Homo sapiens: one gene and its partner. The protein of the gene in region 2 interacts with the protein of the main gene of each other region in a pairwise test. Each region holds a gene or a part of one and is shown on either strand. Other genes may lie near its edges.

Region 1 (4,083 bases), on a different chromosome or scaffold from region 2:
AAAACTCCTGTTCTAGTCCAGATAGAGTTGCCATTTTTAGCAATAAAAAATACAGGGTGCCCAGTTATTTTATCTGCCATTTATCTGTGTCTTATCTGGTAACCATAAGTCCAGATCTTCTTGGCCTAATGCAGACAACAAAGCCTGGAAACTGTCAGGGATAAAAAGTCTTCTATAACATCAGGTGGGAAGTTAGGTGGTAAGATAGGAAATAAAAGCCAACATTTTGGGGAAACTCACTTCTGTAGGTAAAAATGTAGTCGCCTATATCACCCTGTACAATCCTAAGCCTCTGTGGACTCTGGCTTTGGTTTGTTACCCTATATCATAACTCAGTCTCTATGGCCAGTGAAAATGGAGTATTCTTGTAACCCTCATAATGTGTTCCTCAGAAAATTCTCTACATTCTTAAATTCCCTCTGGCTTACGCGGGCCTTACTAGAGAATATTATGGAGAGACAACTTTTGAGAAGCACGGGTATGGTGGCTTTCTGGTCACCTGCCCTGGCCTTAGGAGTCCTCACTAAATTTCTCATTCATTCAACTAATGTTACTGAACATCTCTTAAGAGAAGTCATCTAGCCAGGTAGTTAAGAACACTGCGTTTTACTGACTGTGAGATCTTAGACAATGACTCTGTCTCTCCATTTCTGTTTTAGCATTTGTAAAATGGGGCAATTATATTTGTCTCATAGAGTTATTGTGATGGGTAAATGAGTAAATCCATGTAAAGTGCTTAGAACAACTTCTAGCATTAGTGGGGCCTCAATAAATGTAAGCAGACAGCAGCAGCAGCAGCAGCAAAGATCCATCCACATCCTGCCACACTCACACCTACTGCTGCAGTTATAACTATTGAGTTCAGCAAGTGCCAGAAGAATGGAGCCTCCTGCCTTTTGGAAACAGATTGCTGTGGACTGATTATTTGTGCCGTGACCAACTTCAAATGTCTATGTTGAAATCCTAATCTACAAAGTGATGGTATTGGGAGGTGGCCTTTGGGAGGTGATTAAGTCATGAGGGCTGAGCCTTCATGAATGGGATTAGCATCCTTATAAAAAGGTCTAAGGGAGCTCCCTTGCCCCTTCCACCACGTAATCCAGCCATGTGAGATTACAATGTGAAGACAGCTATCTGTGAGGAATGGGTCCTCACCAGACACCTTGATTTTAGACTTCCCAGCCTCTAGAACTGTGAGAAACAAATTTCTATTGTTTATAAGCCACCCAGTCTAGGGTACTTTGTTATATATAGCAGCCTGAACAAACTAACACATAGTTCTCTAAAAATTTATATTTTTTAGTTCCTTTCATTTTCATAGACGTATGGTCTTTTATTTTACAGATGGGCAAAGTAAGGCTTGGACTAATTTAAGTGCCTTTGCAAGAGCTACTGAGGGAAGTTTAGGGTTTTCTCTCATGAAATATAGCTTTAAAGTCAGACAGATTTGGTATTGAGCCCTGGTACAAGACCTGTGACCCTGCAAGGGTAATTTACTTTATTACCTTCCATTTCTCATATGTGAAATAATAGTCAGTGTTTTGCCATGACAAAGATAAAGATGAAATAGTTATAATACTAACAACCCTGGCACACACTTAGCACACATGTACCAGACATAGTTCTAAGCATTTACATATGTGAATGTATTTAATATATATAAGTAGGTGTCCAATAAATTATAGTTGTTATTATTCTGCCATGTTTTGTGACACACAATTTAGGTTTTAAATTTCTCTTTTATCGATATTAGTGGCATTCCTAGAATTATTAAAAACAATACATATTTGGCTAAGGTTCAGAGATCATCGTTTTGTATTGTTTTCGTAGGGTTATTTTGGAGCCGTTGGGGCACTGTTGGAACTGTTCAAAATGACTGATGACAAGTAGAGACGAGCAGTGGAGGAAACAGCCTCCCAAAAGGACAGAGAACTAAAAAATTGCTGCTGGAGAAGGTGAAAGTCGCTTTGGGACGGAAGCCAAGCCATTATGGCAGATGAACCTGCTGGATTTGTAAATAATTTAAAATCCTTCCAGATGATCTTTTACTCTTAGGTTTTGAGCTAATGATTCAAAACGGGGGAATATAAAAGGTTTTTTTTCTGTATACTGTATTTTTTTAAAAAAATGGTGCAGCGTGGCCAAACCTACCAATTGTATGCATTAACTTTGAAAAGTTGTTTGATGTTTAAGAAGGACCTGATATGTAAGCGCTGGTCATTTTTCTTCTGGGGTTTACTGATCAGTGTGGTGATTTTAACTTCATTTAGTAATTACTCTAGGAGATTTTACCTTGACTTATATTTTTCATGACGTTTCATGATTTGCTGTTGGTTTCAAATGAAACTACAAATCTGGCATGTTTTACTGTGAACACTTTTGTTATTTGTTTTGTACCCTTTTTTGTCTTGTTTTTCTGTTTTAGTTGTCTTCTGAAAAAAGAGTCGTTCCCTCTGTTTCTGTCCTCAGATGATGTCCCTCCCCCTACCTGTAACCTTTCTTTGACATAATTGTTCATATCAATGAAGGTGCTGACCAGCTCAATACAAAGTTAAGCACAAGATCTAAAGCTCTTGAAAATGCCCGTGAAGAGAAGACTGAATGTGTTAATGAATTTAATGAGTCTGGCAAAAGTTGCAAATTATATGCAAGTTTGTCCTATCGCTTATAAATGTAGTGTTTCATTGGATTTATTTTATGCTAGGTTATATTAAGTTGAAATAGTCTGTGATTAAATGTCCTCATCCATGCACAGAATATGAATGGCAGCAAATCTTTGTGCAAGAAATTTGAAACTTATTGGGAAAAGCCTCCCAGTAGATTAATTGTTCATATCAGGAGATTTAGGGTAAGTCATGGGTTGAGGTGTCAGATAGTAATATCTATTTGTTTTGTACATGTATATATCTAGGAACTTTGTAACAACACATCTTTAATAATGTTAAAGGTTTTTTCATTTTTAATATTTTAAACTAAAAACTGTACTTCAATCTCAGTTTCTAAAATTAAAAATAATTTATACTGATCTATATATTTTTTCTTTTTGAAAGATTTCATTAAGACTGATGGGTAACTTTCAAATGAGGGTCATGTACAAATATTGGGATGCATGAGATCCCATGATCTTGTGTATTGAGCTTATTGTTGAAAGGGATTTTTGAAGGACAGAACAATTACTCCATGATGAATCTTCCTTTCTCTGCCTTCTGAGCACCGTCTTTAATTTCCATATCTTCAAGTCTTGAAGAAGTTGATGTTAATTGAAGAATTCACTTGTCTGGTTGAAATAAAGCCTGTTTCTGTTGTGATGTTTTTAGTGTATATGTTATTTTCATTTCTTAATTCTCATGTTTATAGTATCTGCTTTGTACCATGAAATGACTGTCTGTTGTGTTTTTGCTACTCTACATTTCAAAATTGGAGGCTTTCCCATGAGTGTGGTATGGTCCAAAACACTGTCTTCAGGTGAAGCTGTAGCCCTATGCATAGATTTTTAAAATAGAGCTTTATTGTTTCTATACAAGTGACTCCTTAATGCCAACTACCTCTGCTATATTTGGTAATTCCAAAGGAGTTTCAAAATTTGGTCATCACAGATACATTTTACCAACTTCTATCTGGCTTTAAAAAAATTCAGACAGCTAAAGTGTTCTTGAAAAGGATAAGTTAAAAATCTACATATTATTTATAATTAGTGCCTTTTGATGGCCTCTTCTATTCCTATTCTCATCTATCAGGTAACAGCAGACCTTGATTCCGCAGATCATGGTTCTACAAAGGAAATCAGGGCAAGTTAGTGTGACTGTATTTTTTTTAATTATCTGAAATCACTTGATCTCTCATTACAAACATTTAAAATATTGGTGTAGCTGAGAAAATACATTATTCCATTATACAAATATCAGTTAAATGTTGACTACATATAGCCAGCCTGTTTTTTACAAAAGAGATCTTGTAGCCTGAGGATTTTCACATTCACTTGAATTACAGAAACTTTTCTTAGAATCAACATCACAAAGAAACTGGGAAGACTAAAGAATTTTGACCTTGTGCAATATGAAGTAAGAGCATGGCTTTTTATCG
Region 2 (3,828 bases):
ATCAATGACCAATGGTTTAATTAATCATGCCTATGTAATGAAGCCTCCATGAACACCCAAGAGTGTGTCCAGAGTTGGTTCCTTCCAGTGGGTTCTTGGTCTTGCTGACTTCAAGAATGAAGCCACAGACCTTCGCGGTGTTACAGCTCTTAAAGATGGTGTGTCTGGAGTTTGTTCCTTCAGATGTGTCCAGAGTTTCTTCCTTCCAGTGGGTTCGTGGTCTTGCTGACTTCAGGAATGAAGCCGCGGACCTCCGTGGCAAGTGTTACAGCTCTTAAAGGTGGTGTGGACCCAAAGAGTAAGCAGCAGCAAGATTTATTGTGAAGAGCAAAAGAACAAAGCTTCCACAGCGTGGAAAGGGACCAAAGCAGGTTGCCGCTGCAGGCTGGGGTGGCCAGTTTTTATTCCCTTATTTGTCCCCACCCATATCCTGCTGATTGGTCCATTTTACAGAGTGCTGGTTGGTCCATTTTACAGAGTGCTGACTGGTGCATTTACAATCCTTTAGCTAGACACAGAGCGCTGATTCGTGCATTTTTACACAGTGCTGATTGGTGAGTTTACAATCCTTTAGCTAGACACAGCACTGATTGGTGCATTTTTACAGAGCACTGATTGGTGTGTTTACAATCCTTTAGCTAGACAGAGAGTGCTGATTAGTGCATTTTTACAGAGTGCTGATTGGTGTGTTTACAATCATCTAGCTAGACAGACAAGTCCTCCAAGTCCCCACTCGACCCAGGAAGTCCAGCTGGCTTCACCTCTCAAGAGGACAGGGTTTGGAGAGCTTCCAGAGGTTCCTACAGGGTGAGATTCCCAGGGAGAGCATGGAAGCCATATGCATCTTCCCTCATACCTTACCCTGCACATCTCTTCATCTGTATCCTTTAAAATATCCTTCCTGGCTGGGCGTGGTGGCTCACACCTGTAATCCCAGCACTTTGGGACGCCAAGGTGGGTGGATCACCTGAGGTCAGGAGTTTGAGACCAGCCTGGCCAACATGATGAAACCCTGTCTCTACTTAAAAAACAAACAAACAAAAAAAGGCCAGGCATGGTGGCAGGTGCCTGTAATCCCAGCTATGTGGGAGGCTGAGGGAGGAGAATCAATTGAACCCAGGAGGCAGAGGTTGCAGTGAGCCAAGATTACGCCATTACACTCCAGCCTGGGCAACAAGAGGGAGACTCTGTATGAAAAAAATAATAATTAAAAAAAAAGTAAAAAAATTAGATATCCTTCCTAATAAACTGGTAAATGTGTTTCCCTGAGTTCTGTGAGCTGCTTTAGCAAATTACTGGAATTCACAGATGAGGTCATGGGAACCCCAACTTGAAGCCAGTCAGCCAGAAGTTCTGGAGTCCAGGACTTGCAACTAGGGGAAAAGAAGGGGCAGTCTTGTGAGACTAAGCCTGTGGGATCTGATGCTATCTCTGGGTAGGTAGTGTCAGAACTAAGTTGGAGGATACCCAGCTAGTGTCTGTTGCTTGGTGTGGGTGGGAAATCCTCCTACATCTTTGGTCATAGAAGTCTTTATAGCAGCATGATTTATAATCCTTTGGGTATATACCCAGCAATGGGATTGCTGGGTCAAATGGCATTTCTAGTTCTAGATCCTTGAGAAATTGCCACACTGTCTTCCACAATGGTTGAACTAGTTTACAGTCCCACCAACAGTGTAAAAGTATTCCTATTTCTCCACATCCTCTCCAGCACCTGTTGTTTCCTGACTTTTTAATGATTGCCATTCTAAATGATATGAGATGGTATCTCATTGTGGTTTTGATTTGCATTTCTCTGATGGCCAGTGATGATGAGCATTTTTTCATGTGTCTGTTGGATGCATAAATGTCTTCTTTTGAGAAGTGTCTGTTCATATCCTTCACCCACTTTTTGATAGGGTTGATTTTTTTCTTGTAAATTTGTTTGAGTTCATTGTAGATTCTGGATATTAGCCCTTTGTCAGATGGGTAGATTATAAAAATTTTCTCCCATTCTGTAGGTTGCCTGTTCACTCTGATGGTAGTTTCTTTTGCTGTGCAGAAACTCTTGAGTTTAATTAGATCCCAATTGTCAATTTTGGCTTTTGTTTCCATTGCTTCTGGTGTTTTAGACATGAAGTCCTTGCCCATGTCTATGTCCTGAATGGTACTGCCTAGGTTTTCTTCTAGGGTTCTTATGGTTTTAGGTCTAACATTTAAGTCTTTAATCCATCTTGAATTAATTTTTATATAAGGTAAGGAAGGGATCCAGTTTCAGCTTTCTACATATGGCTAGCCAGTTTTCCCAGCACCATTTATTAAATAGGGAATCCTTCCCCCATTTCTTGTGTTTGTCAGGTTTGTCAAAGATCAGATGGTTGTAGACATGTGGTATTATTTCCAAGGGCTCTATTCTGTTCCATTTGTCTATATATCTGTTTTGGTACCAGTACCATGCTGTTTTGGTTACTGTAGCCTTGTAGTATAGTTTGAAGTCAGGTAGCATGATGCATCCATCTTTGTTGTTTTGGCTTAGGATTGTCTGGGCAATGTGGGCTTTTTTGGTTCCATATGAACTTTAAAGTAGTTTTTTCCAATTCTGTGAAGAAAGTCATTGGTAGCTTGAAGGGGATGGCACTGAATCTATAAATTACCTTGGGCAATATGGCCATTTTCACGATATTGATTCTTCCTACCCATGAGCATGGAATGTTCTTCCACTTGTTTGTGTCCTCTTTTATTTCATTGAGTGGTGGTTTGTGGTTCTCCTTGAAGAGGTCCTTCACATCCCTTGTAAGTTGTATTCCTAGGTATTTTATTCTCTTTGAAGCAATTGTGAATGGGAGTTCACTCATGATTTGGCTCTCTGTGTGTTGTTGGTGTATAGGAATGCTTGTGATTTTTGCACATTGATTTTGTATCCAGAGACTTTGCTGAAGTTGCTTATCTGCTTAAGGAGATTTTGGGATGATATGATGGGGTTTTCTAAATAAACAATCATGACATGTGCAAACAGGGACAATTTGACTTCCTCTTTTCCTAACTGAATACCCTTTATTTCCTTCTCTTGCCTGACTGCCCTGGCCAGAGCTTCCAACACTATGTTGAAGAGGAGTGGTGAGAGAAGGTATCCCTGTCTTGTGCCAGTTTTCAAAGGGAATTCTTCCAGATTTTGCCCATTCAGTATGATATTGGCTGTGGGTTTGTCATAAATAGCTATTATTTTGAGATACATTCCATCAATACCTAGTTTATTGAGTTTTTAGCATGAAGAACTGTTGAATTTTGCTGAAGGCCTTTTCTGCATCTATTGAGATAATCATAAGTTTTTGTCGTTGGTTCTGTATGTGATGGATTACATTTATTGATTCAAGGTATGTTGAATCAGCCTTGCATCCCAGGGAGAAAGCTGACTTGATCGTGGTGGATAAGCTTTTTGATGTGCTGCTGGATTCAGTTTGCCAGTATCCTCCTTTAGCTCGGAGAAGTTTGTTATTACCAATCATCTGAAGCCTTCTTCTCTCAACTCGTCATTCTCCATCCAGCTTTCTTCCGTTGCTGGCGAGGAGCTGCATTCCTTTGGAGGAGAAGAGGCACTCTTGATTTGTAGAATTTTCAGCTTTTCTGCTCTGGTTTCTCCCCATCTTTGTGGGTTTATCTACCTTTGGTCTTTGGTGATGGTGACGTACAGATGCGGTTTTGGTGTGAATGTCCTTTCTGTTTGTTAGTTTTCCTTCTATCAGTCAGGACCCTCAGCTGCAGGTCTGTTGGAGTTTGCTGGAGGTCCACTCCAGACCCTCTTTGCCTGGGTATCACCAGCAGAGGCTGCAGAACTGCAAATATTGCAGA

The links.
Region 1: the proteins of ACADM (region 2) and PANK1 interact in a two-hybrid assay, tested with the Homo sapiens proteins (one large-scale study listed by BioGRID).

The regions. Positions count from the first base shown.
Region 1 is NC_000010.11:89,582,213-89,586,295, reverse strand, and holds the end of PANK1 (pantothenate kinase 1), read left to right. Parts: intron 1-1,830; coding exon 1,831-1,890; 3' UTR 1,891-3,308; downstream 3,309-4,083.
Region 2 is NC_000001.11:75,755,446-75,759,273, reverse strand, and holds part of ACADM (medium-chain specific acyl-CoA dehydrogenase, mitochondrial isoform a precursor), read right to left. Parts: intron 1-3,828. UniProt on the Homo sapiens protein: Medium-chain specific acyl-CoA dehydrogenase is one of the acyl-CoA dehydrogenases that catalyze the first step of mitochondrial fatty acid beta-oxidation, an aerobic process breaking down fatty acids into acetyl-CoA and allowing the production of energy from fats.